2 separate regions of the Homo sapiens genome follow, and region 2 is linked to region 1. The links come from fine-mapping of genetic effects on gene expression. Tissue or cell type: subcutaneous fat. Region 1 holds a variant in brackets; the other region holds the start of a gene. All regions are shown on one strand. Distances are between the middles of the regions.

Evidence for each region. PIP is the estimated chance that this variant, and not a neighbour inherited with it, causes the effect.
Region 2: it holds the start of CD33, and the variant in region 1 is fine-mapped to the expression of CD33 in subcutaneous fat (GTEx, PIP 0.95).

Annotation. Positions count from the first base shown.
Region 1 is chr19:51,256,332-51,262,519 of GRCh38, forward strand. All of the region lies in intron 1 of SIGLECL1 (SIGLEC family like 1), which reads left to right. All of the region lies in intron 2 of LOC107985327 (a long non-coding RNA gene), which reads right to left. Among named protein-coding and RNA genes, the nearest start is that of SIGLECL1, 8.3 kb to the left of the region's middle. The variant G/T (reference allele first, on the strand shown) is at 3,349.
Region 2 is chr19:51,221,619-51,227,806 of GRCh38, forward strand. It overlaps CD33 (CD33 molecule), which reads left to right and starts at 3,462. Exons shown (of 7, transcript NM_001772.4): 1 at 3,462-3,537; 2 at 3,600-3,980; 3 at 4,185-4,463; 4 at 4,691-4,738. The coding sequence starts at 3,501. All of the region lies in intron 2 of LOC107985327 (a long non-coding RNA gene), which reads right to left.

The DNA of each region.
Region 1 (6,188 bases):
ATTCAGCCTTAAAAAAGGACATCTTGCCATTTGCAGCAACGTAAATAAACCTGAAAGACATTATGCTATGTGAAACAAGTCAGACACAGAAAGACAAGTACTGCATGATCTCACTTATATGTAGAATCTAAGAAAGTCAAACGCATGGAAGCAAAGTATAGAATGGTGGTTGCCAGGGCTGAGGGCTAAGGGAAATGAGATATTGATCAAGGGGCACAAAGTTTCAGCTAGGCAGAATGAATAAGTTCTGGAGGTTTCATGTGCACCATGGTGACTATGGTAAATAACACTGTACTGTATACTTGAAATTTTGTGACAGTAAATATTAAGTGTTCTCACCACCAAAAAAATGGTAACTGTGAAGTGCTGATTATGTTAATTCACTGGATTGTGGTAATCATTCCACAGTGCATACATACATCAAAACGTCATGTCGTACACCTTAAGTATATACAATTTTTATTTGTCAGTTATACCTCAATAAACCTGGAATTAAAAAACTGAAAATTCTATAATCTCATCTCTGATCACTGCTCTAACCATAGGTAAGCACTGGTATCAAATTATACATCATTCTAGATCTTTGTTTTACTCATTCATGTATGTATAGTTTTGAGTGTATTATATATGAATATGTAGATACATATTTACATATTATATATATAAAGCTTTTATATAAATGACAAATGATCCAGTTTTCATTTAAAGATTGTGAAATATTTCAGACATATAGAAAGATATAAATATGGTATAATGAGCATATACCCACCACCAGCTTAATATTGAAAACACTGGCTGGGCACGGTAGCTCACACCTGTAATCCTAGCACTTTAGGAAGCCCAGGTGGGAGGACGGCTTGAGCCTAGGAGTTCAAGACCAGCCTGGGCAACATAACAAGATCCCATCTCTACATAAATTAAAAAATTAGTCAGGCATGGTGGCACATGCTTGTAGTCCCAGCTACTTGGGAGGCTGAGGTGGGAAGATTGCTTGAGCCTGGGAGGTCAAGCCTGCAGTGAACTGTGAATGCTCCGTTGCACTCCATCCAGTCTGGGTGACAGAGCAAGAAACTGTCTCAAAAAAAAAAAAAAGAAAAGAAAAGAAAGAAAACACTACCCCTGGTATACTCCCTTCCCCAAACACATCTCCCACTCTCAAACATAGAGATCGCTGCTATTCTGAATTTGACATTTTATTCTGTGTACTAAGGAACTTAACCTTGCCTGAAGAGAAGTCTGGCCTTTGCCCTTGGCTTCTGGAAGACACTCCCTAGCTCTTAGAATGTCACACCTCATAGGGGTGTCTTTGTTTGCCCAGGGACCTTGCATCACACTGAATATTCTAGAAATGTGATTTAGGATGAGGGCTGGCCACACCAGATAATGTTAACAATGTGATTTAGAGTGGAAGCAATACCAGATAGTCTAACAATGTGATTTAGAATAGGGGCTTTGGATCAAATGGTATCAGCTCAACTTCAGGAGGAGCTGGATGCTAAGATCCACCATGAGGGAAGTCACCATGTTACACGATGGAGGCCCAATAAAAACACTGGACACAAGGCTTGGGTGAGCTTCTTTAGTTGACAGTACTATGCATATTGTCACACATTATCACCAGGAAAGCTAAGTTATGCTGTCCATGACTCCACAGGGAGAGGATAACTAGAAGCTTTGTGTGGGGAACTTCTGGCCTCTGCCCTGTATGTCTTCCCTTGGCTGATTTTAATCTCTATCCTTTAGTTGTAGTAAACAGTAATCACGAGTATAACAGCTTTCAGTGAATTCTGTGAGTACTTCTAGTGAATTACCAAACCTAAGGGTAGTTTTGGGGTTCCAAAACCTTGCAAATGATTTGAGAAATGAGGGTAATCAGGGATCCTTGATATCTTCAGTTGGTGTCAGAAATGAGGGGATCTTGTGGACCATTCCCTAACTTTTCAGTTGTATCAGAAATGGGATTCACTAGAACAGCCCTGACTCACTGAAACATATGGTTTGAAAAGAGGAAGGATGTGAAGTCAAGATGATAAGCCTTTGATTCCTGGGCTGTCCTGCGGTCACCTGTGCGTATAGAAATGCAGCTGTTCTGCAAACAGTTACAGGAGGTAAAAGTTACCATTGCTTTTTCAATACAATGGATCCAACCCCCAAGGAGCTGACCCACTGGATGCATAAGGAAACAAACTAAATAGGCAGTCCCTTGGCTATTTTTATCTGTAATCGTTAAAATGAAAGTGGCTGAGGCGGATCCTGATGCTGGCCCAATCTTGGGCTCTGGCCAGCCTGAGCTACAGCTGCTAGCCTCAGGGCTGTGGCTAAAGGGAAAAGTTAGGCTGAAATGACAGATGGCAAAGAAAATTAGAGTGGTTCACCAGAGAGTGAGAAAAGACGAACATTTCCAAGAGGGTGGAAATCTTTATAAACAGTTATTAAGAAATGAGATGAGTTAAGTGGACATTGAGGGAGTCTAAACAAAGGTCTCAGTGGAGCACTCTTAGAAATTAGGTGGAGCAGTGAGAACCTAGACTTGCCCTCCAGTGTTGAAGGTCCCCCATCAAGTCTGCTATATTTACCCTAGTTTGGAGGAATTTTAGAAGCCAGAAGGCAAACATGACAATGGGAAATCTGACCTCAGATCTCCTGAGGGGACGAACATGTGATCTAATCAAGATAAATGACAAAAGGGCCTGGGTTGCTTGGCCTGACCCCTAACTGAAGACCCAAAGTCATATGCATATTAGTAGTAAAATAGTCAGGGGATGGATAAGAGATATTTCTGGGACTCATGTGGGAGTCTTATACCTGCATTCCAAAAGGTTGGTGAAATTCTAATAGCATCTATGGTTAGATTGCGAAGACATAGGATTACAAAGTGGATGAGATTCAGGCGAAACTTTGGATGAAAATTGGAATGTTTGGACAGACTATGTAAATATGTTATGTGAATGTATTTACCTAAATGTATTATGAGGAAAGATATTGTGTCCAACTATGGAAGAGTTCCCCTACGTACTATTATGAAACAGAAGGCATGTAAATCTTCCCTTCAACCAATATTGATTGAATATGCTAAATAGGAACCAATAAGATTGCCCAAGCCCACACTAATTGTTAATTTGAAACAGTACAGGATATCTGGTGGACAAAACATGTTAGAAGCTTAACGTTTGCTTTATTTAGGCAGACTGGAGCTAAGGCCAGTGAGCACCACCCAGTGGTGAATGCTGGGATTTGGGGCCAGAAAATTTCCAATGGAGAGACAACTAGCTGCCTATTGGGCTTTGAGTCTGCCCCATCATTGAAGGATATAATAATCCTGACACCTGAAATCCTCATGATGTGTTT[G/T]TCATGTTGGAAAAACACTGTAGTAAGGAAGGCCATGCCCAAAAGAGTCTCGTAATAAAATGGAAATTGTTTATACAGGAACATGCTACCAGGGAAATGCAAGGAGGTCCTCGTTATATTTATGAACAGGTGGCTTTTTCCCTACTGAAGAGCTGCGAGATCCTATTATTACTTGAATGATGTCTATTAATAGCTCTTGATTGACCAACTAAGAGCGGTTTGATTTATGGATGGCAATTCCAAAGTGAATTAATAACATCCTGTTTGGAAGACTGGCACTCATACTGAGGAAGGCAAAAACAAGTCACTTCAGTGGGCTGAACTGCCTCCACATTTGGGTTTTTACCAATTCATGGGCAGTGGCCAATGGCCTGGCCATATGGTCAGGCAGATGGGCAATGGGAAACTGTACTATTAAAAGGATGCCTATATAGGGTACAGCCTTATGGAATTCACTATAGCCAGTATCTCAAAAGACCTGTTCATACCCCCTACAAATGATAAAATAAACAGAGAAACAGACCTCTTCCTCCCAAAAAGGCAATTAATATCCTACCTTTTATGCTGGACATTTCTTGGCAACTTTTAAAGGATTTTTACTACTTGTGTGTGCGTTCTTAAACACTTGATTTTGCCCGGTTTTTTTCAAATTTTAAAGAAATGCTCATACATTATTACTTATTTGTGTCTGGCTTTGTTCATTCAATATTTTATTTGTAAGAATGGTCCATGTTGTTGCATCTAGCATTAGCTCATAGGTTTTTGTTGCTGTGTAGTATCTCATTTTTTAAAATTCTCTGTTTACTGGCATTTGGATTGTTTACCTTTTTAGCTATTTTTAAATAATACCACTGTAAACATTTTTGCATTCCTTTGTGGCGTACATATGCACAAACATTTCTATAAAGTATACATCTGGGAGTGGAATTGAGGGTCATAGAGTATGTGTATCTTCTGCTTTGATAAATAACTTTGTTGCCCTGATTTATATTTCCACCAATAGTGTGTGAAAGTTGAGTACCACATTCTCACCAAGACTTGATATATTGTCTTGGATATGTACTGGTATCTGATGGTTTTAACAGGCATTTTGCTGGTTATTAATGAGATTTTAAATATTTTCATGGAAATTTTATTAAGATTTGTCTTATGATCCAGCTGTGGCCAATTTCTGTAAACGTTCTCTGTGTGCTTACAAAGAAATTGTATTCTGCAGTTATTGATTGCAGTATTCTCTATATATTTTTGGTCAAATTTGCTGATCAAGTTGTTGAAATCTTTATATATTCCAATAGTCTGTTTGTTCTGTCAGTTTCTGAGAGAACAGTGATTAAAATGTCACACTACTATTGTGGATGTCTGTTTCTCCTTTTATTTTTGTAGATTTTTTGCTTTATATATTTTTGGACTATGTTAGTAGGCAAACACAAATTTTAAATATATACTTTATTCCTGTTAATGTCAGCTTATCATTAGGAGATATGCCATTCTATCTTTGGTAATGCCTTTTGCTTAAAGTCTGCTTTATGGGATGTTAATGTAGGTATGTCTACATTACCTGGCTTTCTGGTTGGTATTTGCTTGGTGTATGTTTTCATTCTTTGGTTTTTTCTTTTTTTCTTTTTTTGAGACGGAGTCTTGCTCTGTCGCCCAGGCTGGAGTGCAGTGGCATGATCTCGGCTCACTGCAAGCTCTGCCTCCCAGGTTCATGCCATTCTCCTGCCTCGGCCTCCTGAGTAGCTGGGATTACAGGGGCCCGCCACCACACCCAGCTAATTTTTTGTATTTTTAGTAGAGACGGGGTTTCACCGTGTTAGCCAGGATGGTCTGGATCTCCTGACCTCGTGATCCGCCCGTCTCGGCCTCCCAAAGTGCTGGGATTACAGGCATGAGCCACCGCTCCCGGCCCATTTGGTTTTTTAACTGTCCTTTACACTTATGCTTTGGTTGTGTCTTTTGTAAACAGCATGGAGTTTGGCTTTGCTTCTTTTTTCCAATATGATGATCTTAGATTCATAACTGGATAATTTAAGCCATTTATATTTAGTTAAATCACTGATGTATTGGAGTTTAAATCTAACATCTAGGTACATGATTTCTACTTGTCCCAACCGTTCTATTCTCTTTTGTATCCCTTCTGTTTGTTTCTCTGTCTTTATTTTCAAACAAGCTTTTAAATCAAAGTACAATTTTATACAGAGAAGTATTAATACAGATAGTAAGTATACAACTCAAATTATCACAAAGGGAGCAGACCAGTGTAACCACCACTGAGGTCAAGAAATAGAACATTAACAACACCCCAAACACTCCACTCATGTACTACACCATTCATTACCCCCTTTATCCTTGCTATGTTCTGGATGCAAGCACGTTGTATGTGTTGCAAGTATGTTCTCCAGCCCTGCAACTTGCATTTGTCCTCCTTAATGGTATCTTTTGATGCAGAAATTAATTCTGATACAGTCCATTTTATCCATATTTCCTCATAGCTAGTGCTTTTTGGCCCTTTTAAAGAAATATTTCCTTACCTAAAACTTACCAAGATACTCTCCTATGTTGTATTAAAGAATTCCACTGACCAATGTGGTAGCTACTAACTACATATGGCTATTGAGCCCTTATATTATGGCTAGTCTGAATTGAAGTGTGCTGTAAGTGTAAAATATATACAAGATTTTGAAGAGTGTATAAAGAATGTACCAAATCTTAACAATTTTGTGTTGATTGCATGTTGAAATATTGGGTTAGGTTCAATATGAATAACCTAGTGAATAACCTAGGTTTCTTTCACTAGGTTAAATGAAACATCATTAAAATTAATTTTACCCATTTCTTCC
Region 2 (6,188 bases), 35 kb before region 1:
ACCATAGGACCAGGCACCTGACTCCTAAGTATTTACCCAAGAGCAATAAAAACTTACAGTTACACACAGAAACCTGCATGCCAATATTTATAACAACATTATTTCATAGTCACCCAAACCTGAAAACAATCTGAATGCTCCTCAAATGGTAAATGCATACAAAATGGGGGGTCCATAAAAACAGTGAGTTACGAGTCAGCAATTAAAGGGAACAAACTATAGATTCATACACTCAACCACATGATTGAACCTCAGAGGCACTGCACCAAGTAAATGAAGCCAGACTTTGGAGGCAACATTTTGTATGATTCCATTTATACGACATTCTGTGAAAAGGCAATACAGTAGGGATGGAAAACATATCAGCATTTTTTCATGGACTAAGTGTGGAGGGAGGGTTGACTACCCAGAGACAGGAGGAAGGAACGTTTGGTTAATGACACTCTTCAGTGTCTTCACAGTGGTTGTGGGTATATAATTATATACAACTCTCAAACCATATCAAAATTGCATATGATAAAGAGTTAATTCAACTGTATCTAACTTTAAATAAATTAAAAAATTTAAAACACTGGATGCCACTATGCTCTCACTAGAATTGTTCAAATATAAAGCAGGACAGTATCATACGTCGACAAGGGTGTGGAGCTACTGGAATTCTGGCACATGGCTAGGAGGAGTGGTAAAAAGTCAAAACCATTTTGGACAACAGTTTGGCAATTCCTACTAAGGTTAAACTTACAAGTAGTCATTAGTCTGACTATTTATCTTCCTGTGTATACCAATTAGTATAAAACCATGTATGTAAAAAGACTTGTACCTGAATACCTGTAGGGAGAAAACTGGAAAATCCTTGTCTATCAATAGGTGAGAAATAAAACATTATAGTATACACATAAATGGAATACTACTTAACAATATCACATTTTGAAATACAGACACAAACAACGTGGTTCAGTTTCAAAAAATATTATGCTGGGTCATAGGATACAGACACAAATTAACACATCTCTAGGAGATTTTCAAATAGACTAACTCACAATGAAAGAGGACATATCAGTGGTTGCCCAGCATAGAAGGTGGGAAGAAAAGCCCTTGGCATACTAGAAATGCTGTATATCTGCAGTGTGGTGAGTATACAGGCTGTACATACTCGTCAAATCTCATGCAAATGTGAACTTCAAGTAGGTGTGCTTTATTTCATGTAAATTATACCTAATTAAATTCATTAAAGAAACACAGTAAGACTCACATATTCATATTTGATCTTCTGGTCCATGAACATAGTATGACTTTATTGTTAAAACTAAATGTGGCTGGGCACAGTGCCTCATGCCCATAGTCAAAGCACTTTGGAGGTCGAGGTGGGAGGATTGCTTGAACCCAGGAGTTCAAGATCAGCCTGGGGGAACATAGCAAGACCCCATCTCTCCTAAACATAAAAACAAAAAGTTACTCCGGCCTGGTAGTATGAGCCTGTGATCCCAGCTACTAGAGAGGATGACGTGGGAGAGTCACTTGAGTCTGGGAGGTCAAGGCTGCAGTGAACTGTGGTCAGGCCGGTGCACTCCAGCCTGGGCAACAAAGCAAGACCCTGTCTTAAAAAAAAAAGCACTAAATGTATTGAATTTTCTATTACGTGCCACATGCTAAATATTTAAATAACTTACAACAGATATTATTTACTGGAGACTTAATTTGTTGTATATCAAATGAGGATGCAGCTACCTCTCTATTAGTAAGGATGAATGAAGAGTTATCTAGATACTATTGTGTGTAGAGATTTGACAAAGGTATGGTGGCAAGTACTAATATGTCCCAGGGATCAACGGTTTGCTGGATGCATACTACACAGAGTGATATGGAAAACCATGTAGCTGGACCTAAAGTTTAATTTTCTCTGTACACTCCACTCATGTTGTCTGGAAATATTATGTCTTTGGGCCATATTTAACTGTGAGAAGCAGATTTTTACATGAAAGAAAATGTTGATCCATATGATGAGCCTCTAAAAAAACTTGCTTCTGCCCACACTGAACCAAATGGCAGCATGAATGGAAAAGAAGTTTTTTCTGCACTGGTTCATAGAACATGTGTTCTCCCTTTTGTTTCACAGGAAGATGCTGCATGGTTCTTGTTTTGGAGATGTCATTGACACTGTGCAAATCAGTGTACTAGGTGCCAGGGGAAAATTCTATAGTCATATTTCTTTTAAAATTTCCAATATGCTACCATGATACATGGCAAATTCCCAACTTTTCACAGCTCTAAAGCCAGACAGCATGTGTGTGTGTGGTGAGGACATGAGGCTATGGATGGGGAGTATCTTAAGGGCAGGAATCAGGTCAGTGGCATCTCTTCTCAAGCCCCACCTATACACAAAGGCTCACTGTAAGAATTAAAGAAAGAGGAAAGAAACACGAATGGTGGCTCACCAGTCAAGACAGATTTTAGAGAAAACAAACCTGAGAGGAGTTTCTGGCCGAGTTAAGTCAGAGGCACACTCTCTTACAGACTAAGAGTTTTTAAGGATTTAGGGTGGGAGAGTTTATCAGAGACTTGGACTGCTTCTGAGTCTCTTTGTTGTGCTTATCTGGGAGAGAGAGGTGTGTGTCTGTACCCATACATCTTTCTGCAGCTACAGGCATACCCACTGAGTCTGCTTTTAGCTTCCCTATCTTAGTGCACCTGAAGGGAAAGGAATTTGCTTATTAAGGCCCACTGTTTTACTAGGGCCATTGTATGAGGGTGAAGTTTGGCAGTAACTCAAGAGACTCTCCCCCTACCTCCCTCTGTGCCCGAGCTGTCTTATCTGTGTTTCACTGTCTGCTCTTTCTGGTTGCTTGTAGTTAGCAGAGAAGTGATTTCCTTGAAATGCATGAGGCTAGAAAGGAAATTGGAACTTAAAGAGGCAGTGTTTCTCCGAGATGACGGTGCTCCTGCTCTGTCACTCACTATATCTTTAGTGAATGAATGAATAAATGAATGGCTGCCACCTTCACTTTACCTAGGACTCTTCTTTGTTTCTCTGCCCCAGACACTCACACGGACCCTATAGAATCCTATATCCTGCTGGACTAAACACCCCATGGATCTAGGTGAGGCTGCGACTCGGGCCAGGCCAGCAGTGATCAGCCCTGGTGTAAACAGTTGTGCACAGAAAAGCACCTCAGAGTGGAAGGACTTTAGACATGGGGTTCGCATGTCTCAGATGGCCCTGAAGGTACTGATCCAGGCTCTGGTGCTCCTGGAAGGCAAGACTCAGATTCTGCTCCATCTCCTCCCATCTCTGGGCGGGTCTCTGGCATCTCTGGCCCATGAGGGTCAATCTGTGTGGAGGGGACAAGCTCTGAGCATGTGTGGGTCTGAGGTTCCTCTTCCATGCAGGGCTGAGGTCTCCTGCTCCTCCCCAGCTTCCTGTCCGGCCCTGTAGTCCTTCCCCTCCACTCCCTTCCTCTTTTCTGCTCACACAGGAAGCCCTGGAAGCTGCTTCCTCAGACATGCCGCTGCTGCTACTGCTGCCCCTGCTGTGGGCAGGTGAGTGGCTGTGGGGAGAGGGGTTGTCGGGCTGGGCCGAGCTGACCCTCGTTTCCCCACAGGGGCCCTGGCTATGGATCCAAATTTCTGGCTGCAAGTGCAGGAGTCAGTGACGGTACAGGAGGGTTTGTGCGTCCTCGTGCCCTGCACTTTCTTCCATCCCATACCCTACTACGACAAGAACTCCCCAGTTCATGGTTACTGGTTCCGGGAAGGAGCCATTATATCCAGGGACTCTCCAGTGGCCACAAACAAGCTAGATCAAGAAGTACAGGAGGAGACTCAGGGCAGATTCCGCCTCCTTGGGGATCCCAGTAGGAACAACTGCTCCCTGAGCATCGTAGACGCCAGGAGGAGGGATAATGGTTCATACTTCTTTCGGATGGAGAGAGGAAGTACCAAATACAGTTACAAATCTCCCCAGCTCTCTGTGCATGTGACAGGTGAGGCACAGGCTTCAGAAGTGGCCGCAAGGGAAGTTCATGGGTACTGCAGGGCAGGGCTGGGATGGGACCCTGGTACTGGGAGGGGTTTAGGGGTAAAGCCTGTCGTGCTTAGCGGGGGAGCTTGACCAGAGGTTGATCTTCTCTCAGGCCCTCACCTGGACCCTCCCTCCTGATTCTGCATCCCCTCTTTCTCCTCACTAGACTTGACCCACAGGCCCAAAATCCTCATCCCTGGCACTCTAGAACCCGGCCACTCCAAAAACCTGACCTGCTCTGTGTCCTGGGCCTGTGAGCAGGGAACACCCCCGATCTTCTCCTGGTTGTCAGCTGCCCCCACCTCCCTGGGCCCCAGGACTACTCACTCCTCGGTGCTCATAATCACCCCACGGCCCCAGGACCACGGCACCAACCTGACCTGTCAGGTGAAGTTCGCTGGAGCTGGTGTGACTACGGAGAGAACCATCCAGCTCAACGTCACCTGTAAGTGCTGGGCCAGGATGCTGGGGTCCCTGAGGGTGTAGGGGAGACAGGATGGGCTGGTGCTGGGGACATTTAGTGTCCTGGAGGCCTGGCTGAGTTCGGGAGCCAGAAGGACATGAGCCCTGTCCCTTCTGCATTTCTGTGGTTTCTGGCAGGAGTAAGGGGAAATGCCTACCCTTATCTCATCTCTACCCCCAACTGAAGGAAATCCTCTCTTCCTCTCCTAGATGTTCCACAGAACCCAACAACTGGTATCTTTCCAGGAGATGGCTCAGGTAGGAAGGAGCCTCCCCGCCTGGGGCTGTTACTGACATTGAGTCTGTGTCAGGTTTGGTCAGATCTGGACTTTCAGAGTCAAATGTTCAGAGGCAAGGCCTGCAGTTAGACACGGGTAGACATCAGGCACCTTGGAAAAGGATATTTGGGGATGACTAGCAACTTCCCCCTTGCCCATCCAAATAATGCTCTTTGTCTCCCTCCTGTCTCTGAATGTCTTGGGGTATTTTATTTTTAATTGATATGTAATAATAGTACATATTTATGGATGGCATAGTGATGTTTCCATACTAATAATGTATAGTAATCAGATCAGGGTAATAGCATATCCATCATCTTGAACATTTATTATTTCATTGTTGTTGGGAACATTCAATATCCCCTTTCTAGCTATTTGAAGCTATCTATTATTGTTAAGCATAGTCATCCTACAGTGGTATAGAACACCAGAACTTATTCTTCCTTTCCAGGTGTAATCTAGTATCCTTTAACAAATCTCTCTCCTTATCATTGTTCCCCTAACCTTCCCAGCCCTTATTATTCTCTGTTCTACTTTTTACTTCTATGAAATCAACTTCTTGTAGCTTCCACTTATGAGTGAGAACATGTGGTATTCAACTTTCTGTTCCTAGCTTATTTCATTTAACATAATGTCCTCTAGTTCAATCTATGTTATAGTGAATAACAAGATTTCATTATTTTTTATGGCTGAATGATAATCCATTGTGTATATACGCCACATTTCCTTTATTTATTCATCTGTTGTTGGACACTTAGGTTTATTTCATATCTTCCTATTGTGGATAATGCTGCAATAAACATTGAGGTGCAGACGTTTCTTCAATATACTGATTTCCTTTCCTTTCTATAAATGCCCAGTAGTGGGGTTGCTGGATCATATGGTAGTTCTATTTGTAGTTTTTTGAGAAACTTCCATACTCTTCTCCATAGTGGTTATACTAGTTTACATTCTGGTCAAAAGTATATAAGAGTTCCCTCTTCTCTACATCCTCACCATCATTTGTTAATTTTCATCTTTTTTTTATCATAGTCCTCCCAACTGGGGTGATGTTACCTCATTGTGGTTTTGATTTGCATTTCCCTGGTGATTGGTGACGTTGAGCATTTTTCATATACACTTGTTGGCCATCTGTATATCTTTTCTTGAGAAATGTCTACTCAGATAATTTGCCCATTTTTAAATGAGATTGGGTTTCTTTGCCATTGAGATGTATGAGTTCCTCGTATGTTCTGGATATGAATCACTTGTCAGATGAATAGCTGACAAATATTTTCTCCTATTCTGTAGGTTGCCTTTTCACTCTGTTGGTTGTTTCCTTTCTGCATAGAAGCTTTTTAGCTTGATATCATCTCATTTATTTACTTTTGCTTTTGTTGCTTGTGCTAGTGAGGTCTTACTCATAAAATATTTTTCCAGACCAATGTCCT